Regions from separate parts of the Homo sapiens genome. Here regions 2 and 3 are each linked to region 1. The links come from fine-mapping of genetic effects on gene expression. A gene starts in region 1. Each other region holds a variant in brackets. All regions are shown on one strand. Distances are between the middles of the regions. Region 1 holds the start of CLDN15 (claudin 15). Region 2 overlaps COL26A1 (collagen type XXVI alpha 1 chain). Region 3 has its middle 20 kb from the start of FIS1.

Region 1 (10,773 bases):
GGGTTTCCTCACTCACTTGGTTCCGGGGTACAAGGGGTCGAAGAAGTCCCGGGTGATGTTGAAGGCGTACCAGGAGATGGCCACCATCCCGCAGATACCTGGGGACCGGAGGACGACCCCAGTCCAGTCCAGGGGGAGGGATAGTGGGGGAGGGGGCTTAGGGGAGAGGCAGGCAGGGGCTGCCCAGAGTAGGACGGGGGCACCAAGTCCCAGAGCAGCAATTTCACTCAATTCCTTTCTCCCCACCCCAGTTTATAAGCCTTCCTCCTTCCTGGGGTCAACTTCTCAGGGTAGCCCTTAGGCCCCAAGTCCAGCCCACCCAGCTCATCTCACACTACCTCAACCTCCTCCTGCCTCTTCTCTCTTTGGTCCCAGATCTACCTAGTTCATGCCCACCTCTAGGGCCTTCATCCCATCATCTCCTCACCCAGATGGAGCCCCATCCAAATCCCGCCCACCCTTGAAACCTTGAAAACCCAGCTGGGCCATGGGAGTCCAGGGTCGTCCTTTCCTGAAGCCAGGCAGACCCCCGGGCTAGCACCACCCTACTCACTGGGGGCTTGTCCTCTTGCAAGCCACCTGACCTTTCTGGGCCTGTTTTACCTCTGGAAAACAAGCAATACCCACCCTACCTCAAAGGCTTATTGTGAGGCAATGGGTACAGAAATGTTCTGCAAATTGAAAAGCAATGGCCAGATGGCATTGTTTTTGTTTTTTGCTGAGACGGGTTCTCACTATGCTGCCCAGGCTAGTCTGGAACTCCTGGGCTCAAGGCAGTTCTCCTGCCTTGGCCATTTTTTTTTTGACAGTCTCACTCTTTCACCCAGGCTGGAATGCAGTGGCACAATCTTGGCTTACTACAACTTCTGCCTCCCAGGTTCAGGTGATTCTCCTGCCTCAGCCTCCAAGTCAGTGGGACTACAGGTGCCTGCCACCACGCCTGGCTAATTTTTTTTTTTTTTTTTTTTTTTTTTTTTTGGTATTTTTAGTAGAGACAGGGTTTCACCATGTTGGCCAGGCTGGTTTTGAACTCCTGACCTCAAGTAATCCACCCACCTCAGCCTACCAAAGTGCTGGGATTACAGGCATGAGCCACCATGCCCCGTGGTATGGCACTGTGGACGTGCACTGTGTGTGTGCGCCATAGCGTGCACCCTAACTCTGCTCCCCAGCTAGGATGTAAGCTCCCGGAGGCAGCCGCTCACTCTTATCTTCGAAGTCCCTCCCACACCTGGCCGTGGCCAGCCCCTACTGGGAGCTCAAGAAACACTGCCGATGGGCTGATTTGCAGCCAGGAGATCTGGGGAGTACAGATGAGGCAGGGGTGAGCAGGTGTCCATGCAGCAGGGTAGGGGAGGTGAGCATGAGGAGTGGGAATTGGAGAGGAGATTAGATGAGGACAAAGCAGCCTGAAGTCTGCGGTTGAGGGGGACCCCCGCCCCATCACCTTCCCCCAGTTACCGGCCAGAATGTGGAGGGCCCCTGCGGTGGCCGCCAGCTTGGCTTTCCTGGAGAGCTCCAGGCCCCCAATGTTGGTGCAGCGCAGGCCCGCTATGCCTAGCAAGAGGCCGAGGAAGCCCAGGAGGATGGCGGTGATCATGAGTGCCCGGCAGGCCTGAATATACCCTGGGGGTGGGCACAGTTGTCAGCCTTTCCCATCTCCCCTCTGCGACGGAGCCAGCCCAACAGCCCCTCACCATCCCAGGTTCAAGTGATTCTCCTGCCTCAGCCTCCCCAGTAGCTGGGATTACAGACACGCACCACCACGCCCGGCTAATTTTTCTGTTTTTAGTAGAGACAGGGTTTCACCATGTTGTCCAGGCTGGTCTCGAACTCCTGACCCCAAATGATCTGCTTGCCTCGGCCTCCTGAAGTGCTGGGATTACAGGCATGAGCCACTGTGCCAGGCCCCCCTCACCTTCTTGCTCTCTTGTACCTAACAGTCCCCACATCCTCTCCTTCCCCTGGGCTCCTCCAGCCTACCCAGTTGCAGTCACCCTTCCCTCCTTAGGCATCTGGGCCCCTCCCACCCTGCTCCCCACTCCTCCCATGCACCTGGCACGCTTTGCTTGTGCCTGGATTACAGGCTTTCTCCTGGGCACTCTTGACACCTGAGCTGGGCAACTCTATTCTGGGGGCCGTCCTGTGTACTGTGGGATGTTCAGAAGCCTCCCTGACCTCTACCCACGGGGTGCCAGTAGCAACCCCCTCCCCACAAGCTGTGACAATCATTGTGCAAAGTCGCCCGGCTGAGAACAACTGCCCTATCAGGTTGCTCTCACGTTGCTGGGTATACAGAAACCACAGCTAAGCATCGCTGTCGCCTTCCCCACGTCTGATTCCACTCCAAGTCCTTCACTGTCCTAGCCCAGTGCTGGACATTTTGACCTTGGTTTCTTCCTGGAGTAACAGGTAGGGGGCAGCGGTGCTGTACAGCAGAGGGCCTAGGGCAGTTTTAGAGACAGGGTCTTGCTTTGTCGCCCAGGCCAGAGGACAGTGGCGCCACTACAGCTCATCACTGTAGCCTTGATTGAACTCCTGGATGCAGGCGATCCTCCTGCCTCAGCCTCCTGAGTAGCTCAGGTTACAGGTGTGGACCACCACACCCGGTGGAGTTTCTGACCTAGGTGGAATCCTGGGCCCAGGACCGATCCAGGTCAGTCTAGCTCAGTCTTTCAGTGCCTCAGTTTCCCTTTTCTCAGAGCTGGAGGCTGCGGGCTCCCTCTTGCTTCCCCCTTCTCCTCCCTTCTCTGTCTTTGATAGTTGCCAAGCATTCCAAGGACCTTGCACCCCTTTCCCGGGTGGGGCATAACTGTTGGTGCTGAAGGGGAAAGGCTGGGTCCCTGCCAGGAGATGCAGGGTGCAGAGTCGGGGGGTAGGCAGGAGGGACAAAGTTCTCTGGGAGCACTTTCTTCCTCCCAGCCACTCCCTCTGGGGCTGACACGAGTCTGAGTCCCCAGGTGGCTCTAGCAGTCAATGGAGAGATTATGGAAGAGCCCAGGGGCACATGGGCTGCGTGGCCAGGGGCTGGGGTGCACGGTTGGGAGACGCAGTCAGGTCCCTCTCCCAGGACCACCCCAGCCGTGGAGTCTGAATGCCGGCTCCCCTCTCCTGCCTGTGTGATTCAGGGTGGGGTGCTGCACCTTGCTTCTGTAAAAGTTTCCCCCTACTTCCCCACTGTGGAAAAATGTAGGCAGAAGCACCTAGCCCAAGGCCCGGAACCTGGTCACCCTCTACCCCTGTGCCCTGGGGACTCTGGCACCATCTTTCATGCAGTTGCCAGGGGTGCCCCTCTCAGGTGTGCAGGCTCACAGCAGAGCCCCCTCCTCACAGCATGATGTGTCTGGGAAGTGGGTGTAGGGGCTGCCTCCAGTGTCCCTTCTGGACACTCAGAACTCTGGGGTTCTGGCCCAAGTTGTACTCAGCTTTTATAGGGTTTTTTTTGGGGGGGGGGCCCGCCGGCCCTGCATACAGTCAGTCCTAGAGAGATGGATGAAAACAGGAAGCCTCTGCCGCTGCCTCAGGAGGGGCTGGGAGTAGTGGGGGCACAGGAGACCCACCCAGGCCCCCTAACTGCTCAGAGCAGCTCCAACATCCCCGGGGGTGAGCTCTCAAGCCCCGCTTCACAGCCAGTGTCGCCCTCGGCTCCTTCCCTGCCACACGGTGCCTGGTGAGTGGACTGGCCCTGAAGGACCCAGGAGGGCGTGCAGCGGCACCACACACAGTTCACGGTCGCCAGCGCTCAGTCTCTGGCATAGGGCAGACGGAAGGGAGACTGCCCCGGAGAAACAATGGGGCGGCCTCATCTTAGCGGGGAGCAGGGAGCGGGAAGGTGCCGCAGCCACAGAAAGAACTGCCCTGGGCCCAAAGAGCTGTTGGCTCCAGCCCTCTAAGACCCCAGAAAGACACTGTCCTGGAAGCCCCACACACCTGCACACACACCGCCTCCTTACAGCGGACGCTCAACCTGCAACTTGCAAGACGCCTCCCTTCACAGGGGCCCTTTATAGACATCAGCCGGACAAGGAGACCAGTGCCCCCCGACAGTGAGGCTGGGGAGTCTGTGGAGCCTGGAAGTTGATCAACCTCTAAGAATCCAAGATGGGGCCTCCTCCCCCTGCCCACCCCAGCAATCCCACCCCCAAAACATGCTCAACCGTACTGAGTGCCTATGTGTGTTAACATCACGCTAACATTCTGCACTTTCTCAGTCACCTGTGAACTGGGACTCTCACCCTAACCCTACAGGTGGGAGATGAAGCTGGTTTCATCATTTGCCCACAGCACAGGGCTGGGAAAGGGGGTCTGATTCTGGTGCCTGCACCTGTAACAGCTAAAAGCGCCACACTAGCGCAGGGGGCCACGTGTGGCAAGGTCTTCACTCCAGTTCTAGGCATGGGCCGCCCCCAGCACTCCTGGCTGCGGGAACTCAGACCCGCAGAGCTTAATTCAGGGCTCCCTGCATCCTCACGGAAGTACCCGCCCTCCCCTGGGGTCTCTGCAGCTTCCCCGCCGCCCTCTCTCCCTGGAGCGCTCCCCACCCCATACCAGAGAGGGCCAGCATGGACGGGAACTCCCAGCAGTTGTAGACGCCCAGGGAGTCGGTGGCACAGCTAAACCAGAGGTTCTCGAAGATGGTGTTGGTGGTGATGACGTTCCCGTGCACAGTGGACACTCGCCAGTAGCTGTTTGGCAGAGTCACCCCCAGCATCAGCAGCCCCACAGTTGCCATGAAGAAGCCAAAGGTTTCCACAGCCATCGACATGGTGGGATGCAGGACCCTGGGGGGCTGGTGCCCCAGAGAGGGGGAGGGGCAGAACCCCTAGGGAACTGGAAGGGGCTGCGGCTAAGGAGGGTTGTCCAGGCAGGCTGGGGTGGAATCAGCCTCAGCCTCTGCCTGCCTCTTCCTCGGGCTCAGGTCCGTCTCCACTTTCTGCCTCCCTCCTGCTCTGTGGGTCTCTCTGCTTCCTGGCAGGTCAGAGGAATGAGCTAAGCCTGCGCGCGGCAGCTGTTGACGAGATGGAGGGAATAACCGAAACGGGCCAAAAGTCCACCCCCTCCCCCCAGCCTCTGGGCTGCCCCGGGCTCCCCGCCCCACGAGGGTGGGGGGGGCAGACTTACCCTGGAGCCACTGACGGATACAGCCAAGGAGGGGCCCCCAAGGGAGGCACTGGGAACTGAGGGGAAGCGTCTGTCTCTGACTCAGCTTTCATTGGGGGCCAAAGAACGGAGTAAGAGGGACAAGGAGTGAAAAGATGACAGAGACAGACGTGAGAGCAATAAGGGACAGAGACGGAGAGAGAATGAACAGCAGCCTTCAGTGGTGAAGGACGGAGGAACCACGAGAACAATCTAAGATACTCAGACCAAGGGGTTGGGGCGTATGAGTCTCTTAAGGAAGATCAAGCTGGAATGAGGGGATGGGAGGGTAGGAGACCCACAGCTCTGGGCTCCATCCAGCCTGGAATGGAACTCGGCCCCACCATCCATTCACCAGGGAACTCAGGCGGGGAGTTTTAGTCCCCTGAGCTTCTGCTCTGTCAGTGACATACCCGACTGCTTACTGCAGGGGCTGTGGTGAGAACTGGGACCAGGGGCCGGGCGCAGTGGCTCTCGCCTGTAATCCTACCACTTTGGGAGGCTGGGCTGAGACGATTGCTTGAACTCAGGAGTTCAAGACCAGCCTGGGCAACACACTGAGACCTCGTTGGGACCAGGGAGTCAAGCCCCCCACACATAACCAGCGCTTGGCACCGGGAACTGTCCTGGATGTGAGTGTCACAGGGCTGAGGCCACCAGGGAGTCGCTCTCACCCAAAACTCAAATTTCCTCCTAAGTTGATCTTTGACTCAGCATCGAGCCTGGTCCTGCTGGCCAACAGCCTGGAGCGTGATCCTGTGGCTAAGCTCTGCAACCTGTTCCCAGTTATCAGGGACTGTCACCCACTCTATTCGTTAATGATGATGGATTAGCAGCCTCTGGTCCCCATCCCGAGCCAGTGCAGAGCACCTGTCCCAGAGCAGACACTCTCATCTCCTGCTCCGGTTCCCTAGGGCTCTGTCCCTGGGGGCCATCAGCGCTGGCTGCGCACCTCCCTGGCCCCACGGCCCTGCTGGGCTTCTCCGGCCTCCCCTCAGGTGTCTCCTCCCTACTCCTGTGCTGGCCTGGGCTGTGGAACGAGAGGTATGCGGTGAAGCAAAACAGGCCCATGCCGAGCCTGGCACGAGGGGGCGAAGCTGGCTAGGTGGGGCTGAGTCCTGACCTTCCAGCCCACAGGCGAGAGCTGGGGCTCCCTGGGCTCTGACCTCTCCCGGGACCCCCGCCTACTCCATGCCAGATGCAGGATTCCTTCCCCTACTGGGCTCCCCCTCCCCCAGAGGAGGAGGTAGGAGGAAGGGGAGGCCACAGGAAGACAAAGGGAGGGGAGGGTGGGGAGGAGGAAGCCAAGGGGGCCTGCTGTGGAAAACTCCACAGAAGTAGCTGAGTGGGTCAGAGGAGAATGCAGGCCTGAAGCCCGGCCTGGCCCCGAAGTTCTGCCCGCCCATGCTCAGGTCACTGCCTTCTCCCAGGACTCTGGGACCATGGAAAAGCCCCATGTCTCCGAGCTGCCCGGCACTCTCAAGGACATGGCTTCAGGAAAGGGAGGAAGGAAGGGTGTGGGCTCTGGGCTGCGGGGTGGACAAAGAACCCCGTGCCAACCTGGAGGGCAGGGGCAGGAGAGGACCAGGAGTGACGTCTCCGCCCCCTGTGCCCAGCGTTCAGAACCCACCCCTCCCCTCAACGCAGACACGGGGGTTCCCAAGCCACAGCCCCGTTTTATTTACACTCATCCCAAAGCACATGATGGGGCTGAAGGACGAATCTCAGGGGAGCAGAAATTAGCTGAAGGCCACAGAGGATAGAGACGGGGGGCAGGGGGAGAACAGGGAAAGGACAGCGAGGATGGACAGGCCCTCCTGGAGCGTTCTCCGTGGGCTCCCGCGTCTCCTTCAGGATTTGGACTTGGACACAGCAAGTCCGATGAGTCCGGCCAGTCCCGCCACACCCAGGGCCATGCCTCCCACGATGGCCATGCCCACGAGTCCATCTGGGGAAGGAAAGGGACAGTGTCAGGAGCCCGGCCCCTGCGGAAACCCTGACCGTCCCCTTCCGCCAGCCCTGCCCCTCAACAGAGGCACACCCCTACCTGGAGTCGCAGGGCAAGGGGCTCTAAGAACTGGAAGGGGTGGGGCTGAGGGGCTGCCTGGAGGGGTTCATTTACAGAGAGACCAAAGTGCCCAGGCGTGGGGAAGAGCGGGGCTGAACAAAGGGGCCGAGGCTGTCACCTTTCTTCATGGCCTTGTCAATGAGCCGCTCCAGTTCCTTGGCCTGGTTGTTCTGGGGCTCTGTCTGCAGCAACCCGCGGACGTACTTTAAGGCCTTCTCGTATTCCTGCGCTCGGGGAAACGCGCACGCGTCATACACACCGCAGTGTTTTTTTGTTTGTTTGTTTTTTAATAAGAGACGGGGTCTTGCTCTGTTGCCCACGCTGGACGGCAGCGTCGCAATCACAGCCCACTGCAACCTCAAACTCCCAGGCTCAAGCAGTCCTCCCGCCTCAGCCTCCTGAGTAGCCGGGATTACAGGCGTGAGCCACTGGGCCGGCTACACCTCAGTATCCACCACTCCCCCTGCCCACGTGAAGGGCCTTCCCTTCTTCAGCCCTGGGGGCTCCTCCCTCGACCTCCACCCACTCCCTCCCTCCAGCCCCACCCCACGGAGTAGAGTCCACAAACAACCCCAACTCTGCGGGAGATAACAGCGCAAGGCTTGGGCCTGCACCCAGTCTCTTGACGTCACCTTCCTCCCCACCCCCTCGCCACTCTGATCTTCCCTCGGAGTCCTCATCTGACACCGCTCTGCACCTCTGCACCCCTTCAGCCTTCCCGCTGTCCAGGGCTCCACCCTGGAGGACACAGTAAGAAGGTCCTGCAGCCCCAGAGGAGGGTGAAGGGAACGGGGTCCCCACCTCACCTTGAGCCGGTAGTTCCCCACGGCCAGGTAGAAGACGTAATCCCGCTGTTCCTCCTTGCTCCCTTTGGGCAGCAGCTCTGGGGAGGGGCAGAGAAGAGGGTGAGAAATGCTTCTTTCCTAATACTTTCCTAATACTGTGTCCCAGAGGCCCCTTCCACTCTCTGAATGCCTCTGTGATCCTGGGAGGGTCACAGTCCTAAGCCTCCCTTTCAGCTCCAGTCACTCCCAGCACCCTAGCCAGAGCTCTGGGACAGGGTGAACCCCAGCTGTGCCAACACCCCAGTGACAGAACATGCCTTTTATCAGTATTACAGTCAACTGGTCCATCCAACTGAAATGAGGAAATCGGGGCCCTGGAGAAGCCAAAGGCAGCGTGACTCAGTTTTGGCATCTGCTGTGGTATTTTTTTTCAGACGGAGTTTCACTCGTCGCCCAGGCTGCGGTGCAATGGCGTGATCTCGGCTCACTGCAACCTTCGCCTCCTGGGTTCAAGCGATTCTCCTGCCTCGGTTTCCCGAGCAGCTGGAATTACAGGTGCCCGCCACCACGCCTGGCTAATTTTTGTATTTTCAGTAGAGATGGAGTTTCACCATGTTGGCCAGGCTGGTCTCAAACTCCTGACCTCAAGTGATCTGCCTGCCCTGGCCTCCCAAAGTGCTGCCGTTGTGGTTTTAACTAAACTGCCTGCTGTACAATTATTGTTTAAAAAAAAAAAAGTTAGGACTCCCTCCCCCTTTAAAAAAATCAGCTCAAAACTCACCTTCAATCAGCCTTCCCCGAAGACCCCACCTGACTTTGTCTTCCTTCCTTTTTTTTTTTTTTTTTTTTTTTTTTAAAGAGACAGGGTGGGCCGTGAGCCGTAGCTCATGACTATAATCCCAGCACTTTGGGAAGCTGAGCCGGGCGGATCACCTGAGGTCGGGAGTTTGAGACCAGCCTGACCAACATGGAGAAACCCCGTCTCTACTAAAAATACAAAATTAGCCGGGCGTGTTGGCACATGCCTGTAATCCCAGCTGTTCGGGAGGCTGGGGCAGCAGAATTGCTTGAATGCGGTAGGCAGAGGTTGCGGTGAGCCAAGATTGCACCATTGCACACTCAGTCTCGGGAAAAAAAAAACAAAAAACGGAGACAGGGTCTCGCTCTGTCACTCCAGTCTGGAGCACAGTAGCATGTCCATGGCTCACTGCAGCCTCAAACTCCTGGGGTCAGTGATCCTCCTGCCTCAGCCTCCCAAGTAGCTGGGACTATAAGCACACACCACCATGCCTGGCTAATTTAAACATCTTTGTTACACAGACAGGCCAGGTGGTCTCAAATTCCTGACTTCAAGCCATCCTCTGGCCTTGGCCTCCCAAAGTGCTGAGATTACAGGCATGAGCCACAGTGCCTGGCCCCACCTGACTTTCTTAATTCAGAGACTTCCCAGAGGATAACTGTACTGTATGCACTAGAATTTGTTGCTAAATAATTCTGCAGGTGTTTATAAATCTTCCTGTCTGTACTGTTTTCTCAACTAGACTGGCAACACTTAGAGAGGCTGTTTCTTCTACACCTACACCCTGCTGTAGAATAAACCTGAAAATCTGAATTGCCGAAGTAGACAAACATAGGGTAAAATTATTTGTATCTTTTAAGAAAGAGTCTTATTTTTATAGTTTTTTTTTTTTTTTTTTTGAGACGGAGTCTCACTGTGTTGCCCAGGCTGGAGTGCAATGGCGTGATCTTGGCTCACTGCAACCTCTGTCTCCCGAGTTCAAGTGATTCTCCTGCCTCAGCCTACTGCGTAGCTGGGATTAAAGGTGTGCGCCACCAGGCCCAGCTAATTTTTGTATTTTTAGTAGAGACAGGGTTTCACCATGTTGATTAGGCTGGTCTCGAACCCCTGACCTCGTGATCCGCCTGCCCTGGCCTCCCAAGGTGCTGGGATTACAGGTGTGAGCCACTGTGCCTGGCCATTTTTATAGATTTTCAATAGGCATCCTTTGCTAACACAGTCAGCATTCTGTATTCATAGATTCAACGAACCATGGATCAAAAATACTCAGAAAAAAAAAAAAGATAGTTGCATCTGTATTGAACATGAACAGACCTTTTTTTCTTGCCATTATTCCCTAAACAATACAGTATACTATTTACACAGCATTTACATTGTATTTGGTATTATAAGTAATCTACAGATGATTTAAAGTATATGGGAGAAGGTGCACAGGTTACATGTAAATACCATGCGATTTTATATACGGGACTTGGGTGGCTATTGGTATCTGTGGGGGTGGGGTTCCTAGAACCAATCCCCCATGGCTACAGAGGGATGGCTGTACACTGACTGTGTGCTTATAAATGATTATTTGAACACAAGGAGCTACAGAGAAACTAAGTGGTTAAGTATTGTGGCCTCTGACAAATGATGACCCACCTAAAACCAATAGGAAATAGGGTTCCCATCCAAAAAGCACTATCTGGCTGGACGAGGTGGCTCACACCTGTAATCCCAACACTGTGGGAGGCCGAGGTGGGCAGATCACCTGAGGTCAGGAGTTAGAGACCAGCCTGACCAACATGGTGAAACCCTATCTCTACAAAAAATACAAAAATTAGCTGGGCGTGGTAGTGGGCACCTGTAATCCCAGCTACTCAGGATGTTGATGCAGGAGAATTGCTTGAACCGGGAGGTGGTGGTTGCAGTGAGCTGAGACAGCGCCACTGTACTCCAGCCTGGGGGACAGAGCAAGACTCCGTCTCAAACAAAAACAAAAA
Region 2 (10,773 bases), 180 kb after region 1:
TTCTTCTACCTCACCCTTCCAGAGTGCTAGGATTTCAGGCATGAGGCACCACACCCAGCTAATTTTTTTTTCTAATTTTTTTTTGTAGAGCTGGGGTCTTGCTACGTTGCCCAGGCTGGGCAAACCTTAGTTCTAACAGAGCTTCTTGAACACAGTTGGCAGGCAACCTCACTGGCACTGGCCTTTCTGAGGGATTGGGCAGGTGTGGCCAGGTAATTAGAACAGTGAGGGCAGGTGTGGTGCTGGGGAGCTGGGCCTGAAGCTGGACACCCCCAACCTTGAGATGGCTCAGATCCTGCTGGGGCTCAGGTCCTGGCACAGACCACAGCCCAGAGCAGCTGCTGTGGTTGAGCTGAGTGACTGTGGATGGGAGGGCTCCTTCTGGGATGCAGGGGTTGGGGTCGGAGCAACAGAACTTTACCAGGCCTGCCCTGTGTCCGCCGTCTTCAGGAGCTGGGAGTCTTCCCATAGGACGAAGGCTAAGACAGAGGCATACAAGGGGGCCCTGTGGGACAGGAGAACCTTTCCTGGCTGGAGGGTCAGGGAAGGCTCGCGGGAGGGACACGGCCACGTCTGTGCTTGAGAGCGCGCCCTCTGGTGGTAGATAGAGGAGACTGCAGGCTGGGAGGGCAGGAGGGGCCGAGGTTCAGGACCACCATGGGAGGGGCGTCAGGACACGGACTTGCAGGCACGGTGCCTAATTGGCCGTAAGGAGGCAGGGAAGGGAGGGAGGAAAGGAGAAGGTGGAGTCTGGGTGATTTGCTCCTGGTAAGGAAACGGGGAACTTAGAGGTGCTGGCCTCCAAGCTGGAGGAGCAAGTCGGGGTTGAATAGTGATGGATTCAGTTGGATTGGACAGGTTGGCATTGTGTGTACTGCAGTGTCCTGTGGGACATGACGGTGTGTGACCACTGTCTAGGCAAGCAGGCAGGCACAGTGGTGACTCAACAGGGGGCCAGGACAGAGCTCAGGATGAGGAAGTGGGGACAGACTGTGTGGTTCTGGTGGAAAGGAGGGGGGCCCTGGCAAGGCCTTGGGGCCTTGCAGAATTGCTTGAGCCCAGGAGGTCAAGGCTGCAGTGAGCTATGATTGTGCCACTGCACTCCAACCTGGACAACAGAACAAGACTCCATTCCAAAACAAAACAAAAGAAAAAACAAAAGCCCTGGTCTCTGACTCAGGCTCGGGACTCAAGTGTCCTGGGGAGGGAGGGGACGCATGAGATCAACCCTCAAAGCAAAGCTCAGTTAGGAGCACTGGGGCTTGGAAGGCCAAGCCTGAGGCTGGGGTAGAGGTGGTGAGGTAGGAGGTGGAACTTGACTCCAGGGGCAGAGCTTGGACACCAGACCAAATTGAGGACTAGCTAAACAAAACAGATCGGGGCAGAAGCGCCTCCCCATAAGACATGCCCACCAGTGCGCCATGTCAGTTTCCCATTGCCATGACAACACCAGGAGTTACCACCCCTTTCCATGACAACGACCCAACAACCCTAAAGCTACCACCCTCATCCTGGAAGTTTACGCATAAACCACCCCCAATTTGCATACAATTAAAAGTGGGGCCGGCACAGTGGCTCATGCCTGTAATCCCAGCACTTTGGGAGGCCCAGGCGGGCAGATCATTTGAGGTCAGGAGTTTGACACCAGCCTGATTAATATGGTGAAACCCCCTCTCTACTAAAAGTATAAAAATTAGCCAGGCGTGGTGGTGTGCACCTGTAATCCCAGCTACTAGGGAGGCTGAGACAGGAGAACCCCTTGAACCTGGGAGGCGGAGGTTGTAATGAGCCAAGATTGCATCGCTGCCCTTCAGCCTGGGCCACAGAGCGAGACTCCGTCTCAAAAAAAAAAAAAAAAAAAAAAAGTGGGTATAGATATGAGTGCAGCCCTGCCTCTGAGCTGCTACTCTGGGCACACTGCCTCTGGGGTAGCCCTGCTCTGCAGGGAGCAGGACCTCTGCTGCTGCTGTGCACTGCCACTTCAATAAAAGTTGCAACACCACTGGCTTGTCCTTGAATTCTTTCCTGGGGGAAACTAAGAACCCTCCCTGGCTAAGCCTCAATTTTGGGGCTCCCCTGTCCCGTGTCACCAGGGCAATGGGGGGAAGAGGCTGCTTCAGCAGCATCTCTTAGGGCAGCAGGCAGCCTCGGAGAGGGGTTGACTGGTCACATTCCGAGATGGGCATGAACCTGGGAAGTGTCCTGAAGATCTCTCTATCGCATCATGACATGATTTCCTGAAATCACTTAGCACTTGTTTTCTCTATTAACCGCCAATTAAGGATTTGATGGCTCAGCCAAGTCACAGAGCCAAACGCCTGGTGGGGTGAAAGTACTGTGCAAGCAAGCCTTGAGCTGGTGGTGGCTCGGGACGGTTTGATTGCTCCTCCCCCTAGGTGAAGTGGGCCGCCTCTTGCAAGAAAAAGAGACTTGTGGCCGGGCGCGGTGGCTCGTGCCTATAATCCCAGCACTTTGGGAGGCTAAGGCAGGTAGATCACTTGAGGTCAGGAGTTCCAGACCAGTCTGGCCAACATGGCGAAACCAGTCTCTACTAAAAATACAAAATATTAGCCGGGTATGGTGGCGGGTGACTGTAATCCCAGCTACTTGGGAGGCTGATATAGGAAAATTGTTTGAACCCAGGAGGCGGAGGCTGTAATGAGCTGAGATCATGCCATCGCACTCCAGCCTGGGCCACAAGAGTAAAACTCCATCTCAAGAAAAGAAAGGAAATGAAAGGAAAGGAAAGAAAAAGAAAAGAAGAAAGAAAAGAAAAAGAAAAGGAGACTTGTTTGGGAGCAGATCCGTCCTCAAGACCTTTGCTAGGAGTGAGTTTACTGTCTTGGACCCTCCCTGAGTGCTCAGCTGGGGAGAAGGGAAGGGAAATGAGGAAGGAACATTGCTGAGATGATGCCCAGAGATAATGCCAGTCCCTTGCCATCCTGATGGAGGCTGCCGGGAGTGTGTTCATTTCTTGGCAGTTCGAGGACCAGGCCTGCCATGTCCCAGTTCTGTCCTCCTGGGTCAGTCCTTCCAGGAGGGTCGTGAAAGGGACATGTGTCTCCTGCTAAGCACCTTTCTGGGTGCAGTTATTTTATGGCCCCCAGAGCACTGTTCACCCACTGCTGTGCACCCGCCATAGTCAGGAGCTGAGGTGCGCAGGTGGGCGGTGGCAGGACGACACCACCAGACAGCAGACAGAGGCAGACAAAACACTCAGGACGCAGGGATCCTAGGGGCAAGGCAATGGGGGTCCCCACAACCGCGGCTACCTGGGGATGCACAGGCTTTAGAGCTCCATCTGGAAAGGCCTGGAGCCCTTTCCTTGTCTCTGCCTCCCTTCTTCGTTGTTTTTGGCCAAGTTTTGATTTTTGGAAGCCATTTCCAGCCCATTTAAAGACCAAATGTTATGGGGACGGTGATTTGAGGTATTTGGAAATGTTTTCCAATTCACAGCTCATTTCTCTATGGAAAGCCCTGACTCAGTGTGGTTCAGAGATGCTGGACGACGGCCTGTCTGTTCTAGAACCCTCGGGCGGATCTCAGGATCCCACATTAAACCATCCTGAGGAAAGTCACCTCTCTCTCTCTCTCTCTCTCTCTCGCTCGCTCTCGCTCTCACTCTGTGTTTGTGTGTGTGTGTGTGTGTGTGTGTGTCGGAGTCTTGCTCTGTCACGCTGGCTGGAGTGTAGTGGCACGAACTCGGCTCACTGCAACCTCTACCTCCCGGGCTCAAGCAATTCTCCCGCCTCAGCCTCCCGAGCAGCTGGGATCACAGGCACCTGCCACCACACCCGGCTAATTTTTTATTTTTATTAGAGACGAGGTTTTGCCATGTTGGCCAGGCTGATCTCAAACTCCTGACCTCATGTGATCCGCCCATCTCGGCCTCCCAAAGTGCTGGGATTACAGGCATGAGCCACTGCGCCCGGCTCACCTTTCTTTTTGGAAACACACACTGAGTGCTTGAGCTGGAGCTGAGGCTTTCCAGTAGAATCAAAGGAAGGGCCTAGGCTGCTGAAGTCTCCCACAGTTTCAGGACCTTTTTAATTGGCAGAGGTGGAATTCACAGTTTGTACTGGGTAGGTGGGATCCCGCCAGTCCTCGGGTCAGGAAGACTAGACTCCCTTTGCAGCTCAGCCTGTGGTTTGAGCTGTAGCTATGGGCAATGAAGTTTAACCTCTTAGACTTTCTTTTCCATCTGCAAACTAGGACTGTCTTTAAGCTGTTAGATTCCTTTGTAGGGTTTAAGTAACCAGTTGATTAAGAATGATGCCTTGATTTTGGTAATGCTGCATGATTTACACACTACTGACTGGGATGTGTTCATTTAGTCCTGATCATAACCCCCCCCCTTTTTTTTTTTGAGACGGAGTCTCTCTCTCTGTCGCCCAGGCTGGAGTGCCGTGGTGCGATCTTGGCTCACTGCAACCTCCGCCTCTCAGGTTCAAGCGACTCTTCTGCCACAGCCTCCCCAGTAGCTGGGATTACAGGCGCCCTCCACCATGCCCGGCTAATTTTTTGTATTTTTAGTAGAGACTGGGTTTCACCATGTTGGCCAGACTGGTCTCGAACTCCTGACTTCAGATGATCTACCCGCCTTGGTTTCTCAAAGTGCTGTGTTTACAGGCGTGAGCCACTGTGCCCAGCCTCATCATAACCTTAAAAGTTAGATTTTAAATATAACTGAGGCTCAGAGAAGGGACATCACTCTGCCTAAGTCATACAGCAGGTTTGTGGCAGAACCTGGTTTTAAACTAGGTTTCCTGGTGCCTGTGAGAAGAGGGCTCAACTTTTCACTACTTTCCCTTTTCTTCCATGTTTTTGTTTTGTTTTGTTTTGTTTTGAGACAGGGTCTGGCTCTGTCATCCAGACTGGAGTGCAGTGGTGCGATCATAGCTCTCTCCAGCCTTGATCCCTGATCTCAAGCGATCCTCCTGCCTCAGCCTCCCGAGTAGCTGGGACCACAGGCATGTGCCACCATGCCTGGCTAATTTTTACTTTTTATTGTATAGAGATGGGGTCTTGCCGTGTTGCCCAGGTTAGTCTGGAACTTCTGGGCTCAAGTGATCCTCCCACCTCAGCCTTCCAAAGTGCTGGGATTATAGGCGTGAGCCACTGCACCCAACCCCTTTCACGTATTTTTGAGTGTGCTAGTACTGGTAATATGTATTTTCCTAGAAAATTGTCCAGTAGTCAGGATTTTTGAAATTTTTTGATGTAAGATTATACCTAATATTTGCTTATACATTTAAATCTCTATATGGAATTTTTTTTTCTTGTTCTTCATGTCTATTAAACCTGAGTTTAGCAGGGCATGGTGGCACACGCCTGGAATCCCAGCCCTTTGGGAAGCCGAGGTGGGACGATCACCTGAGCCCAGGAGTTTGAGACCAGCCTGGGCAACATAGCTAGACCCTGTTTCTACAAAAATGCAAAAGTTAGCCAGCATGTTGG[C/T]GCACACCTGTGGTCCCAGCTATCTGGGAGGCTGAGATGGGAGGATTGCATGAGCCCAGGAGGTTGAGGCTGTGGTGAGCCATGATCATGCCACTACACTCCTGACCTCAAGTGATCCACCCACCTCGGCCTCCCAAAGTACTGGGATTACAGGCATGAGCTACCACACCCAGCCTGAACTCATGTCTTTCTTCAGCTCTTGTAAATTTTCTTGTTATTTCTTCAAGTACATGCTTCTCTTTGTTCTTTTTTGATCATGCCTTCCAGAGCTACTACTATATAGATGTTGGTCCTTGGTCTTCCTCTAGGTCCCTTGTTGCCTGTTTCTGCCTGTTTTCCATCTCCTTTTCTTTTTGCAGTGGCTACTGGGAAAGGTCACAGCTTAGATTTGCAGCTCATCGGTTTGCCCTTTAGCTGTTTCCATTCTGTTTTTCATAGTCATACATTTCACTTCTAAGATAATGCATTTTTTTAATTTCATTTTTTTTGTGTGTGTATGTCACAGGGTCTTGCTCTGTCACCCAGTGTGGAGTGCAGCGGTGCGATCATGGCTCACTGCAGTCTCAAACTCCTGTGCTCCAGCGATCCTCCTGCCTCAGCCTCCTGAGTAGCTGGGACCACAGGCATGTCAGGGACCATGCCTGGCTAATTTTTGTATATTTTTGTAGATACAGTGTTTCACCATGTTGCCCAGGCTGGTCTAAACTCCTGGGGTCAAGCTATCCACCCGCCTCAGCCTCCCAAAGTGCTGGGATTACGGGTGTGAGCCACCATGCCTGGCCAGAATTTTTTAGTGAGTGATACATTGTCTTATTTCTTTGAGGACATTAATTATGCTTTAAAAAATTATCTCCATCTATTTGCTTTACTATTTTTTAAGGGGATGTGATTTATTGCCTGTTGAGTTGGTGCCTTTCTTCCATGATACTGGCCTTTTTTCCTCAAATAATTTGAAAGTCTTGGTATCTGGGGTTTTCCATTAGCTTGTTTCTGTTTCCTGAGAATTTGTCTGTTGGTGGGCTGGAGGTATGGATGAAGAATGGGAAACGAGTGTGTAAGAATTCATTTATCTGTCTGACTTTGAGAGTGACCCTGTTTCTCCTGGAGGTCACAAGCTTTTTTTTTTTTTTCTTTTTTCCATCCCCCAAGACTGAAAGGTCACCAGTTTTTGAGGTCAGCCAGCACCCACTCCTGTGACCATACCTACCTTAGGACAGGTGAATCCAATGCCTAATATCTTTTTTTTTTTTTTTTAAATAGAGACAGGGTCTCGCTCTGTCACCCAGGCCAAAGTGCAGTGGCACTATCATATCTATGTATCTCTACATATCTATAGATACAGGTATATCTATATATCTAGACATAGATATAGAGATATATCTCTATATCTAGACATAGATATAGAGATATATCTCTATATCTAGACATAGATATAGAGATATATCTATAGATATCTATATCTATAATATATTTATATCTTGAGATGGAGTCTTACTCTGTCATCCAGGCTAGAGTGCAGTGGTGCGATCTCGGCTCACTGCAACTTCTGCCTCCTGGGTTCAAGTGATTCTCCCGTCTCAGCCTCCCAAGTAGCTGGGTCTACAGGTGTGTGCCACCAAGCCTGGCTATTTGTTTTTGCATTTTTAGTAGAGACAGGGTTTCTCCATGTTGGCCAGGCTGGTCTCGAACTCCTGACCTCAGGTGATCCGCCCACTTTGACCTCCCAAAGTGCTGGGATTACAGGCATGAGTCACCATGCCCAGTCGTATATATATACTTTTTGTAGAGACAAACAGGATCTTGCTATGTTGCCCAGGCTAGTCTAGAATTCCTAAGCTCAAGCGATTCTCCCACCTTGGCCTCCCAAAATGCTGGGATTATGAGTGTGAGCCACCGCACTCAGCCTCCAATGCCTGATTCCTGAAACCAGCAGGGACAAGGACCCGGGTCCTACCTGTCCAGCTCTTTCTATGGTGGTCCCCTAACCAATCTCTCTGATGGTCACCTTTGGGTCCCTCTCTACCTCCTCATCTGCATCTGTGCCCCCATGTGGCTCCTAGCTTCAGCCCCGGTCCTCTTTTGTGTGTTTCTGGCTGTGATTTTTGCCTTCAATGTGGGCCCATCTACTTTCTGTCTCTTAGGGACCCCTCCAAATGTCTGGCCCATTGCTTCTCTCTTTCCAATGCCCTTGAGGACTTTTTTTCTTATTTTATTTTATTATTATTTTTAGACAGGGTCTCGCTCTGTCACCCAGGCTAGAGTGCAGTGGCATGATCACAGCTTACTGTAGCCTCAACCTCCTGGGCTCAAGTGATACTCCTGCCTCAGCCTCTTGAGTGGCTAGGACTATAGGCGTGTGCCACCACAGGTAATTTTTAAATATTTTTGTAGAGATGGGGTCTCGCTATGTTGCCCAGGCTGGTCTCAAACTCCTGGGCTCAAGTGATCCATCCTCCTCGGACCCCAAAAGTGCTGAGCCACCACCCGGCCAGGGACTTATTTTTTAATTTTCAATTTCTAGGCTATGGGGATGGGAGGAGGAGGTGGGAGCACCTTAACCTGATCCCGTATTGTTTGTGTACGTCCCTTCCTCTTTCCTCCTCTCCACTGCCCAAGCTTGCTGCCCCTTGCTTCTTGTACTCTGAAGGCATTTATTCCCTAGCCCGGCAGGTCACATGTCTCTTCCTTTCTCCTGGCTCCTCCCCTTCCTTCAGCCTTCTGGCTCTTTCTTTCTTTCTCTCTCTCTCTCTCTCTGGCTCTTTCCCTTCCTCCCTCCCTCCCTCTCTCCTTCTCTCTCTCTTTCTCTCTCATTCCTCCTCCCCTCCCCTCCCCTCCCCTCCCCTCCCCTCCCCTCTTCTCCCTTCCTCTCCTCCTCTCTTCAGGGTTTCACTCTGTTGCCCAGGCTGTAGTGAAGTAGCATGATCATAGCCACTATGATCCTGGGCTCAAGCCATCCCCTGCCCCAGCCTCCTGAGTAGCTGGGACTACATGTGTGTGCCACCACGCCTGGGCTAATTTTTTAATTTTTATTTTGTAGAGGCAGGGTCTCACTATGTGGCTCAGGCTGATCTTGAACTCCTGGGCTCAAGAGATCCTCCTGCCTCAGCCTCCTAAAGTGCTAGGATTACAAGTGTGAGCCACTGTGCCTGGCCTGGCCACTTCCCATTGCAGGCAAGTCTCTAGACTTGCCGTGGTCTCTCTCCGCTCTGTGCCTGTTACACCGCTGCTTCCCCTGCTGGCTTCGTCCCCTCTCACGGCCCCCACACATTGGTCAGTTGGTCGGTTGGTCGGTTGGCTAACTTATCTTGCACTACTCAGCTGGTGGCCTCAGGGCCTGCTGGGCGAGATGCCCTGCTCCGTTCCTGTAGCTTGTGTGTTCACCACGTGGTGGAACGTGTTACCTGCTGTTCCTATGGACTGTGTCATCTCCTCTCCCCACCAGGGTGAGATTTCCACGGGCAGGGCTGAGTCTTTCTCACCAATTCCACACTGAGTGGTCAGTGACGGGAATGATGCCAGGGCTTGGTGGCCAAGGGTTGCAAGTGTTCTCTCTTCCCCTCAGACCGAGACAGAGGGTCTCAGTGGGCCCCCCATCCAAGAGAGCGAGCCTCCACCCCAGGTTTGCGGGGGCCCCTCCCTGTCCAGCACGGCCCCCTGACCCGAAGTTGGCAGCTCTGGGAACAGGCAGGGCTCATGTGACTGTTGCTCTCTCCACAGGCACTGGTGCCATCACACAGTGACACGGACGGTGTCCTGCCAGGTGCAGAATGGCTCGGAGACGGTGGTCCAGCGCGTGTACCAGAGCTGCCGGTGGCCGGGGCCCTGCGCCAACCTCGTAAGGTAAAGGCCGCTGGGCTAGGCTGCTCTGCCCTTCCCTCCCATTCCCTCGGACAAAACCAGTCCCAGGATGGCTCTGGGAGAGGCTGGGCTGTGCTCACAGACAAAGGCTGAGCATGCATTTATGGAGCACCTTCTGTATATAAGGCATGGGTGTGTGTATATAGGGTATATATGTGTGTGTGCAAAGATGTCAGAGACATGCTCCTACCGCAACAGAACCACACAACCCAGTGGGTGTTTGACAGACAGAAGACCACCACAGATGAGTGGGGTATGGGATCCGAGGTCGGGGAAGGCCAGGTGGGGTTGAAGAGGGAACCAACCAGCCTTATGGCTCCAGGCTGGAACGAGGGGCTACAATGACCTTGGAAATCCAGCCTGTCTTTGGCCCCATCCATCACAGGCCTCGCCCCTGGCAGCACTGCCCCACTCACCAGGCATGTCCCTCTCACTGGCCCTACTTGTTACTGGACCTGCCCCTCACGAGGCCTGCCTTTCACCAGCCCTGACCCTCATGAGCCCCACCCTTCACCAGCCCTGCCCCCACCAGCCTTGCCCCTCACCAGCTCTGCCCCTACCAGCCACGCCCCTCACCAGCCACACCCCTCACCAGCCCCTCCCTCTCACCAGCCCCGCCCATAGTCAGCCCTTCCCTCTCACCAGCCCCTCCCTCTCACCAGCCCCTCCCTCTCACCAGCCCTGACCAGACCACAGGCTTCAGGGACTCTTCAGCATCCGCAGAGAGATCTTGCTGTCAGACACCAGCATTCACGGTCTCCAAAGTTCCAACTCTCCTTCTTTTCCCTTCTTCCTCCTCTCCAGGCCGTGCTTAGCTCCAGGGACTGGCTTCCCCAAACCACTCTCCCCACAGCCTGCCCAGCCTGGGGCCTCTACCCCAAGCACCGTGGAGCCGCTGTCCTCAAACTCCAAATCCCTTCCCCTCCTTTGTGCCCTCCCTAACGGGACATTTTGCCTGGGTCAGGGTTCTCCAGAGAACCAATAGGAAGGGATGGGGGAGAGGGAGAGTGGGAGAGAGATTGAAATGGTAAGGAATTGGCTTGTATGATTATGGAGACTGGCGATTATTCCAAACCTGCAGGGTGGGCTGGCTGGCTGAGACCCAGGGAGGAGAGCTGATGTTGCAGCTTGAGATGGGCTGGCTGCTGGTCAAATGCCTCCTTCCTCCGGGGAAGTCAGTCTTTTTCTTAAAGCCTTCGACTGATTGGACAAGGCCCACCCACATTATAGAGGGCAACCTGCTTTACTCCAAGTCTACTGATTTAAATTAATCTTGGCTGGGTGCGGTGGCTCATGCTTGTAATCCCAGCACTTTGGGAGGATGAGGCGGGTGGATCACTTGAGGTCAGGACTTTGAGAGCAGCCTGGACAACATGGCGAAACCCAGTTTCTACTAAAAATACAAAAATTAGCCAGGCGTGGTGGTGGGCGCCTGCAATCCCAGCTACTGAGGAGGCT
Region 3 (10,773 bases), 26 kb after region 1:
GAGTCCAGGTGTTTGAGACTGCAGTGAGCTATAATCTCACTGCTGCGCTCCAAACTGGGCGACAGAGTGAGACTCTGTCTCAAAAAAAAAAAAAAAAGAAGGAGAGGAGAAGAAAAAATAAGTAACTATTGGGTACTAGGCTTAGTACCTGGGTGATGAAACCATCTGTACAGCAAAGCCCCGTGACGCGAGTTTGGCTATATAACAAAACTGCACATGTACCCCTGAGCCTAAAATAAAAGTTTTAAAAAAAGATTTTTAATGTACAGCGTTATAAATTATTCTGAAGTTTGTAATCCTCTCCTTTTCAAAACTCTCTTAGTACTTCCATAATGCCATTTAGGTCCTGTATTTTGACTTATATGAGGTTTTCTCTTATATCATGGGGGGTTTAACACGTATTTATTAAATCTAAGAAGTAATAAATATAGGAAAAAACAGACCTTTAGAAGTCCAGAACTCCATCAAATATTGAAGGAACTTCAAGGACAAGTCAGAGTCTTTTTTTTCTTTTTCTTTTTTTTTCTTTTTTTTTTTGAGGTGGAGTTTCCTTCTATCACCCAGGCTGGAGTGCAGTGGCATGATCTCACTGCAGCCTCCACCTCCTGGATTCAAGCAATTCTCCTGCCTCAGCCTCCCAAGTAGCTGGGACTACAGGTTCCTGCCACCACCCCCAACTAATTTTTGTATTTGTAGTAGAGACGGGGTTTCACTATGTTGGCCAGGCAGGTCTTGAACTCCTGACCACGGTGATCCATCTGCCTCTGCCTCCCAAAGTACTGGGATTACAGGCGTGAGCCACCACATTTGGCCAATTCTGCGTTGTTAAGGATTGCTTCAGATGGGTAATGGTGGGGCAACCAGGCTTAAGTTCAAAATTTAATGGAATAATCTTCATTTGTAGGGTAAATTGAGGATACCCATGTGATGAAAGATGCTTGTTTGTTTTATATTAAAATCTTAGAATTTTATAGAAGGAAATGATTGAAGACTTTTTTATTATTATTTAAAAATTTTAGGCTGGTCACGGTGGCTCATGTCTGTAATCCCAGCACTTTGGGAGGCCTAGTCGGGAGGATCACTTGAGTTGCTTGAACTCAGTAGTTCAAGACCAGCCTGGGTAACATGGCGAAACCCACATCTCTATAAAAATTTAAAAAATTAGCCAGGCATGGTGGCATGTGCCTGTAGTCCCAGCTACTTGGGAGGCTAAGGTGGGAGGATTGCTTGAGCCTGGCAAGTGGAGGTTGCAGTGAGCTGAGATTGTGTCACTGCACTCCAGCCTAGGTGACAGAGTGAGACCCTTTCGCAGAAAAATAAATAAACAAATAAATTTTAAAAATAGAGATGGAATCTCACTCTGTTCCCTAGGCTGGTCTCAAGCAATCCTTGTGCCTCAGCCTCACAAAGTGCTGGGATCACAGGCATGAGCCACCACACCTGGCCAATTCCACAATTCCACATTGTTTTGTTTTTGAGGTCGCCCAGGCCGGAGTGCAGTGGTGTGAGCATGGCTCACTGCAGCCTCCACCTCCTGGGCTCAAGTTATCCTCCCACCTCAGCCTCCCAAGTAGGTGGAACTACAGGCATGTGCCACCATGCCCAGCTAATTTCCTTGATTTTTTTTTGTAGAGAGGAGGTCTCACTATGTTGCCCAGGCTGGTGTCAAACTCCTGGCCTCAAGCGATCTGCCCACCTTGGCCTCCCAAAGTGCTGGGATTACAGGCATAAGCCACCACATTCGGCCAACTTTGCATTGTTTTGTTGTTTCATTTTGGTTTGTTTTTGAGGCAGAGTCTTATTCTGTCTACCAGGCTGGAGTGCAGTGGTGTGATCTTGGCTCACTGCAACCTCTGCCTCCTGGGTTCAAGTGATTCTCCCACCTCAGCCTCCCAAGTAGCTGGGATTACAGGCATGTGCCAACACGCCCAGCTGATTTTTGTATTTTTAGTAGAGACAGGGTCTCACTATGTTGCCCAGGGTGGTCTCAAACTCCTGACCTCAAGAGATCCTCCCACTTTGGCCTCCCAAAGTGCTGGGATTACAGGTGTGAGCCACCACACCTGGCCAGTAATTGAAGATCTTCAATTCAGTTGCTCACTTTTTTTTTTGAGACGGAGTCTCACTCTGTTGCCCAGGCTGGAGTGCAATGATGCAATCTTGGCTCACCACAACCTCCGTCTCCTGGGTTCAAGCAATTCTCCTGCCTCAGCCTCCCGAGTAACTAGGATTATAGGCATGCGCCACCACGCCCAGCAAATTTTGTGTTTTTTGTCGAGATGGGGTTTCTCCATGTTGGTCAGGCTGGTCTCGAACCTGACCTCAGGTGATCCTCCTGCCTCAGCCTCCCATAGTGCTGGGATTACAGGCGTGAGCCATGGTGCCCGGACGAGTTGCCCATTTTTTAATTGGCAAACATGATCAAAGAGGTTGGGTAATTTTCTCAAGGTGTGGTAGTGGGAATTGAAGCCTTTCTAGGTCTCTTGACTCTATAAATTGTCTGCAGTAATTTTTCTATTCGCTATTATCTTTTTGATATGTGGTAGGTCAACTTATTTTTTAAAAAGTAATTTTGAGGTAAAATCATCTGTTTCTGGTCAAAAGTCAGGTAGCTAAGTCCTTCATGAAGAGGAATGCCTGCATGAGCTAGATTACTCAAAGCGTTATAGTATAAAAGACACCCCCTCCCATCTCTTGGAAGCCTTCAAATGCTCGAAAGAATGTTCCAGAAGGCCGGCTGTGACTAGGAGCTGAATAGAGGCTGCTTCCTCTGAAAAATAAGATCACGTCAAGCTGGGCAAATCTGAGAGCTATGAACCTTCCTAAATGTCAAAATTGCTAAGGTATTTTTAAAACTCGGAGGCTTTTATTGACTTAACGACTGAGAAGATGAAAGCAGTGGAAAACGTGAAGAAATCACGCTTTTGTTAGGTGTTGAATTGCCGGAGATGTATCTGTGTCATGAACTGAATTGCATCTCCCAAATTTATATGTTGAAGTCCTAACCTCCAGGACCTTAGAATGTGACTATATTTGGAGATGGGGTCTTTAAAGAAGTTAAGTTAGAATGAGGTCATTGGGGTGGGCCCCCACCCAATCTGACTGGTGTCCTTATAAGAAGGGGAGATGGGGCCGGGTGCAGTGGCTGATGCTTGTAATCCCAGCACTTTGGGAGGCCGAGGCAGGCAGATCACTTGAGGTCAGGAGTTCCAGACCAGCCTGGACAACATGGTGAAACCCCGTCTCTACTAAAAATACAAAAATTAGCTGGGCATGATGGCACGCACCTGTAGTCCCAGCTACCTGGGAGGCTGAGGCAGAAGAATTGCTTGAGCCCGGTAGGTGGAGGTTGCAGTGAGCCGAGATTGCGCCACTGCACTCCAGCCTGGGCGACAGAGGGAGACTCTGTCTCAAAGAAAAAAAAAAAAGAAGAAGAAGGGGAGATGGGGCCGCGCATGGTGGCTCACGCCTGTAATCCCAGTACTTTGGGAGGCTGAGGTGGGGGGAATCACTTGAGGTCAGGAATTGGGATCAGCCTGGGCAACATAGCAAGACCCTGTCTCTCCAAAAAAAAAAAAAAAAGGTTGTGGGGTGATAGATTAGGACACAGACATACACAGAGGAAAGAGGACATGAACACAGGGAGAAGGTGGACATCTGCAGGCTAAGGAGAGAGGCCTCAGAGAGAATCAACCCTGGCGTCACCTTGGCCTCAGCCTCCCAGCCTCCAGAACTGTGAGGAAATAGATTTCTGTTGTTTAAACCATCCAATCTGTGGAACTTTGTTCAGAAAGCCCTAGCAAATTTACTGCAACATGCAAAAGCGGGCTAGCTCAGCAGGGCACAGTGGCTCACGCCTGTAATCCCAGCACTTTGGCCGAGGCGGGTGGATCACCTGAGGTTGGGAGTTTGAGACCAGCCTGACCAACATGGAGAAACCCCATCTCTACTAAAAATACAAAATTAGCCGGGCATGGTGGCACATGCCTGTAATTCCAGCTACTTGGGAGGCTGAGGCAGGAGAATCGCTTGAGCCCGGCAGGCGGAGGTTGCGATGAGCCGAGATCACACCATTGCACTCCAGCCTGGGAAACAAGAGCAAAATTCAGTCTCAAAAAAAAAAAAAGTCAGCTAGCTCATGTCTTTTTATTATTTTTGAGACAGGATCTTGTTATGTTGACCAGTTTGAAGTGTGGTGGTACAATCATAGCTCACTGTAGCCTTGACCTCCTGGGCACGAGGGATCCTCCCGTCTCAGCCTCCAGAGTAGCTGGGACCACAGGCATGCACCACCATGCCTGGATAATTTTTATATTTTTTGTAGAGATGGGGTCTCTTTATGTTTCCCAGGCTGGTCTCGAACTCCTGGCCTCAAACAATCCTCCTGCCTCTACTTCCCGAAGTCCTGGGATTACAGGCATAAGCCACCACGCCTGGCTTCATGGTACTGAAACACTCTACAGAGTACTGGTAAGTACACAATACAATTTTCCTTTAGATTCAGTTTTTCTATCCCAGAACTTGCTGAATGTGATTCCCAGGCAAGCCTTGTGCATTCCTGGACTGTTTCCGCCATGCATTCTGAGTGTGGGATGCAGAAACAGATTTTCAGATATGAGTGCTTTATTAACTCCCAAAAGGCACAAAGAAAAAGATCTTTGGTCCAGGCACAGTGGCTCACACCTGTAATCCCAGCACTTTGGGGGACCAAAGCGGGCGGATCACTTGAGGTCAGAAGTTGGATACCAACCTGGCCAACAAGGAAAAACCCCGTCTCTACTAAAAATACAAACATTAGCCGGGCAATGTGGCAGGCCCCTGTAATCCCAGTTACTTGAGAGGCTGAGGCAGGAGAATCACTTGAACCCAGGAGGCGGAGGTTGCAGTGAGCAGAGATCACACCACTGCACTCCAGCCTGGGTGACAGAGCAAGACTCGGTCTCAAAAAAAAAAAAAGAAAAAAGAAAGAAAGGAGGAAGGAAGGAAGGAAGAGAGGAAGGAAGGGAGGGAGGGAGGGAGGGAGGGAAAAGAAAGAAAAGAAAGGAAAAGAAAAGAAAAGAGAAGAAAAGAAAAGAAAAAGGTATTTGCACATTTCTGATCACAGAGGCCCTGAAGATGGATCTGCTGGCCTTTTACTATTCTTAGAAACCTGCTTGGTGTTTGGGAGGAGGGTTGGAGAAGGAGGCAAGAGCTGACCTTCCTCGCCCTGCAGAAGCATGCGGGGGTGGCTGTTCTGTGTTCAGTGAGGCATCACGTGTTTTCCTCCCCTTCTCTGGCCAGGCACTGGTTGTCCCATGTGCCCTTAGCTCTCAGAGCATCCAGCTCTGCCAACCTTGCAGGAAGATCTGGGGGTAGAGGGATTGGGGGAGAATCTTTATTGGGGCCACACACTCTGCAGCCTCATAGGACTGGTGGGGCAGGAGCCAGGGTCCAGTTGACCCTGATGAAAAGTTTAATGAAGATATGTAGCCCAGCTCTGGTCGGGCACAGTGGCTCTCACACCTGCAATCCTAGTGCTTTGGGAGGCTGAGGCGGGTGGATTGCTCGAGCCCAGGAATATGAGACCAGCCTGGGCAACATGACGAGACACCCCTCTTTATTTTATTTTAATTTTATTTTATTATTTATTATTTCTTTATTTCTTTATTTTTTGAGACTGAATTTCACTCTTGTCGCCCAGGCTAGAGTGCAATGGCGCGATCTCGGCTCACTGCAACCTCCGCCTCCCAGGTTCAAGCAATTCTCCGGCCTCAGCCTTCCGAGTATCCGAGTAGCTGGGATTATAGGCACGTGGCACCATGCC[C/T]GGCTAATTTTTATATTTTTAGTAGAAATGGCGTTTCATCATGTTGGCCAGGCTGGTCTGGAACTCCTGACCTCAGGTGATCTACCCGCCTTGGCCTCCCATAATGCTGGGATTACAGGGGTAAGCCACCATGCCCGGCCGATGCCCCTCTTTATAAAAATACATAAAATTAGCCCGATGTGGTGGTGCATGCTCGTAGTCCCAGCTACTGAGGAGGCTGAGGTGGGAGCATTTCTTGAACCTGGGAAGTTGAGGTTGCAGTGGACTGTGATCATGCTGCTGCACTCCAGCCTGGGGGACAGAGCAAGACCCTGTCTCAAAAAAACAAATAAATAAATAAAGCAATTATTATAATATGATGGTCAAAGTGTTCTTATTCAGTTAGCCTCTCACCAGAGCTTAGCGGAAGGGTCTTCAACTCCAGACTGCAAGTTAAGGAAAAGTTTTGAAGAGGTAATGGCAGAAATGAGTTTTTTTCTGTTTTTGTTTTTTTGTTTGTTTTTGAGACGGGATCTCGCTGTGTTCCCCCAGGCTGGAGTACGGTGTTGCAATCATAGCTCACTGCAGCCTGGAACTCCTGGGCTCATGTGATCCTCCCATCTCAGCCTCCCAAGTAGCTGGGACTACAGGTGCACCACCACACCCAGCTAATTTTTTAATTTTTTTGTAGAGACAGTGTCTTGCTATGTTGCCCAGGCTGGTCTCAACCTCCTGGGCTCAAGCGATCCTTTCTCCTCGGCCTCCCACAATGTTGAGATTAGAGTTGTGAGCCACCATGCCCACCTAGGGTGATATTCTGGTTTTTTTTTGTTTTGTTTTTGAGATGGAGTTTCACTGTTGTCATCCAGGCTGGAGTGCAGTGATACAGTGGCGCAATCTTGGCTCACTGCAACCTCCGCCTCCTGGGTTCAAACGATTCTCGGGATTACAGGCATGAGCCACCGCGCCTGGCGTCCATATCTCGGAAAATTTTCGATCTGTGGTTGGCTGAATCCATGCATGGGGAACCTGCAGCTATAAGGGTCAACTGTATTGGCCTCGTCAGTCAGGAAGTGGTCCTTCTTCTGTTTTCTGGAGATTACGTGTAATTAGTGTCGATATTTCTTTAACTATGAGTAGACTTCTCCAGTGAAACTATCTGGGTCTGGAGATATCTTTTTCAAGAGTGGGAGGAAAGAGTTAATACAACAGGTCTGTTTCCCCCCTTTCTCACTTATCTCTGTAGCCAAGGTGATGGCTGTTTGTCAAACTCTGAAAACCAAACTTCTGGAATATTCACATAGTTACTGGTTCAGATGTTATTCTCCATGGCCAAAACAGTGAGCCCAGATGAACCAGGCTGTCAGCAGATTTAAAGTAAACATAAAGATTCATGATACTTGGCCAGGTGCAGTGGCTCATGCCCGTAATCCCAGAATTTTGGGAGGCCAAGGCGGGCGGGATTGCTTGAGGTTAGGAGTTCAAAACCAGGCTGGCCAGCATGGGAAAAACCTGTCTCTACTGAAAATACAAAAAATTAGCTGAACATGGTGGTGAACGCCTGTAATCTCAGCTACTTGGGAGGCTGGGGCAGGAGGATCACTTGAACCTGGGAGACAGAGGTTGCAGTGAGCCAAGATCACACCACTGCACTCCAGCCTTGGTGACAGAGCGAGACTCCGTCTCAAAAAAAAAAAAAAAAAAAAAAAAAAAGAAGAAGCAGCAGCTACAGTAAGCTATGATCATGCCACTGCACTCCAGCCTGGGTGACATAGTGAGACCCCATTTCTAAAAAAAAAGAAAAAAAGATTCATGATGCCCAACCTGTGGTTAAGGGCTGTGTTTGGTCACATGGCAGGAATGTTGCCCAGGCTGGAATGCAATGTCGCGATCTCAGCTCACTGCAACCTCCGCCCCCTGGGTACAAGCTATCCTTCCGCCTCAGTCTCCTGAATAGCTGAGAATGCAGGCGTGTGCCACCACACCTGGCTAATTTTTTTATATTTTTAGTAGAAACGGGGTTTCACCATGTTGGCCAGGCTGCTCTCAACCTCCTGACCTCAGGTGATCTGCCCTCCTCAGCCTCCCAAAGTACTAGGATTACAGGCACGAGCCATCACGCCCATCCCACAAATGTTTTAATTTTTTTTTTTTTCCAGATGGAGTCTCACTCTTGTCACCTAGGCCGGAGCACAGTGGCGTGGCCTTGGCTCACTGCAACCTCTGCCTCGCGGGTTCATGCGATTCTTCTGTCTCAGCCTCGCGAGTAGCTGGGATTACAGGAGCCCACCACTATGCCTGGCTAATTTTTTTTTTTTTTGAGACGGAGTCTCGCTCTGTCGCCCAGGCTGGAGTGCAGTGGCGCGATCACAGCTCACTGCAAGCTCTGCTTCCCGGGTTCACGCCATTCTCCTGCCTCAGCCTCCCGAGTAGCTGGGACTATAGGCGCCTGCCACCATGCCCGGCTAATTTTTTTTGTATTTTTAGTAGAGACGGGGTTTCACCGTGTTAGCCAGGATGGTCTCGATCTCCTGACCTCGTGATCCGCCTGCCTCGGCCTCCCAAAGTGCTGGGATTACAGGTGTGAGCCACCGCGCCCGGCCCCTGCTAATATTTTTGTATTTTTAGTAGAGACAGGTTTTCACCATATTGGCCAGGCTGGTCTGGAACTCCCGACCTCAGGTGATCCGCCTGCCTTGGCCTCCCAAAGTGCTGGGATTACAGGCGTGAGCTACCACGCCCAGCCTAATTTTTTTTTTCTTTTTAATAAAGACGAGGTCTCACCATGTTGCCCAGGCTGGTCTCAAACTCCCGGACTCAAGCAATCCTCCCACCTCGGCCTCCCAAAGTGCTGGGATTACAGGGGTGAGCCACTGCGACTGGCCTGACCACACAAATTTTGACACCAGAACTCAAGTGGAATTTCCTGGGCAAGGACATCTCACACAAGTCCTTGCAGTTTGCTCCTGGAAAAGATATGTCTGTGCATTCCTGCAGAGAGAGGATAAAAAAGTGTGCATTTGACCTCTCCAGCCTTCATCTATTAATACCCTTTTTCCTGCTGTTCTTGTATTGTATCCTCCGCTGTAATATATCTTCACCTAGAGCATAACTTTATCTGCAGTCACGTGGGTCCTTCCAGGGAATCACCAAACTAGCTGTATGTGACCACGAAGACAAGAAATTGTTTTATTAAAACTATGAATTCAAGGCCAGGTGCAGTGGCTCAGGCCTATAATCCTAACACTTTGGGAGGCTGAGGTGGGTGGGTCACCTGAGGTCAGGAGTTTGAGACCAGCCTGGTCAACATGGTGAAACCCTGTCTCTACTAAAAATACAAAAAATTAGGATTACAGGTGGTGGGCTCCTGTAATCCCAGCTACTCAGGAGGGTGAGGTGGGAGAATCGCTTGAACCTGGATGGCAGAGGTTGCAGTGAGCCGAGATCGTGCCACTGCACTCCAGCCTGGGTGATGGAGTGAGTCACCATCTCAAAAAAAAAGGGGAATTCAGCTGGGCATGGTGGCTCACACCTGTAATCTTAACACTTTGGGAGGCAAGGCAAGTGGATTGCTTGACCCCAGGAGTTGGAGGCCAGCCTGGGCAACTTGGCAAAACCCCATGTCCACAAAAAATAAAAAAATTAGCTGAGTGTGGTGGTGGGCGGCTGTAGTCCCAGCTACTCAGGAGGCTGAGGTGGGAGGATCACCTGAGCCCAGGAATTCAAGGCTGCAGGGAGCCGTGTTTATGCCACTGCACTCCAGTGTCGGTGACAAAGTGAGACGCAGTCTCGAAATGAAATAAAATAAAATAAAAAACCATGAATTCCATTTTTAAAATTGTTACAAGACTTTAAAAATTATGTTTCATATTGAGTGTTTTTTGGTAGTTTGTAGTTTTCAAGAAATTGGTCCATTTCTTCCAGCTTGTTGGATTTATATGGGTAGAGTTGCTTGGTATCCTTACTATCCTTTTATCAGTTTTTCTGGGTTTTTTTTTTTTTTTTTTGAGATGGAGTCTCGCTCTGTCACCCAGGCTGGAATACAATGGTGCAATTTTAGCTCACTGCAACCTCCACCTTCCTGAAGCGATTCTAGTGCCTTGGCCTCCCGAGTACCTGGGTTTACAGGCGCCCGCCACCACACCTGGCTAATTTTAGTATTTTTAGTAGAGACAGCGTTTCACCATATTGCCCAGGCTGGTCTTGAACTCCTGACCTCAGATGATCCACCCACCTCGGCCTCCCAAAGTGCTGCGATTACAGGCATGAGCCATCGCACCTGGCCTTGTTTTTTTGTTTTGTTTTGAGGTTTTGAGATGTAGTTTCACTCTTGTTGCCCAGGCTAGAGTGCCATGGCACGGATCTCGGCTTACTGCAATCTCCGCCTCCCAGGTTCAAGCGATTCTCCTACCTCAGCCTCCCAAGTAGCTGGGAGTACAGGCATGCACCACCTCGCCTGGCCCTCTTTTTTAAAGACAGAGTCTCACTCTGTTGCCCAGGCTGGTGTGGAGTGATATGATCTCAGCTCATTGCAGCGTCTGCCTCCCGGACTCAAGTGATCCTCCTACCTCCAGCCTCCCGAGTAGCTGGGACTAAAGGCGTGTACCGCCATGCCTGGCTAAGTTTTGTATTTTTATTTTTATTTATTGTTTTATGGGGGCTACAGCGGCAGGTGGCAAGGCGCCACGCCTGAGTGGGGATGGCGAGATTGTTCTCCAATCGCCAACCTCAATGGTGCAACGGGAGACGGACATGGGAAGGCTATGACGTCACGGGCCCTGTGACGTTATGGCAGGATACGGGGAAGGGAAGCAAAGCGAGGTAACGGGCAGCGGACTATAGCAAGAATATGGAATGCATCGCGAATCTGTGTGTCATCCTTGCGCTGGGGCCATGCTAATCTCTGTATCGTTCCAATTTTAGTATATGTGCTGCCAAAGCAAGCACAATTTTTGTATTTTTTGTAGAGACAGGGTCTTGCCATGTCACCG

Evidence for each region. PIP is the estimated chance that this variant, and not a neighbour inherited with it, causes the effect. A credible set is the group of variants that fine-mapping cannot tell apart.
Region 2: its variant is the best candidate, but not a certain one, in a credible set for the expression of CLDN15 in whole blood (INTERVAL, PIP 0.76).
Region 3: its variant is the best candidate, but not a certain one, in a credible set for the expression of CLDN15 in whole blood (INTERVAL, PIP 0.59).

The regions. Positions count from the first base shown.
Region 1 is chr7:101,232,817-101,243,589 of GRCh38, forward strand. It overlaps CLDN15 (claudin 15), which reads right to left and starts at 4,986. Exons shown (of 5, transcript NM_014343.3): 1 at 4,549-4,986; 2 at 1,462-1,626; 3 at 17-98. The coding sequence starts at 4,765. It overlaps FIS1 (fission, mitochondrial 1), which reads right to left. Exons shown (of 5, transcript NM_016068.3): 3 at 8,014-8,090; 4 at 7,326-7,431; 5 at 6,656-7,087. The coding sequence ends at 6,990. RefSeq lists an enhancer at 7,104-7,647.
Region 2 is chr7:101,410,803-101,421,575 of GRCh38, forward strand. COL26A1 (collagen type XXVI alpha 1 chain) reads left to right here. Exons shown (of 13, transcript NM_001278563.3): 2 at 9,175-9,297. Among named protein-coding and RNA genes, the nearest start is that of COL26A1, 53 kb to the left of the region's middle. RefSeq lists enhancers at 485-1,028, 9,598-10,149, 10,150-10,701. The variant C/T (reference allele first, on the strand shown) is at 5,458.
Region 3 is chr7:101,259,313-101,270,085 of GRCh38, forward strand. It overlaps the pseudogene RNU6-1104P. Among named protein-coding and RNA genes, the nearest start is that of FIS1, 20 kb to the left of the region's middle. RefSeq lists a silencer at 6,673-6,850. The variant C/T (reference allele first, on the strand shown) is at 5,804.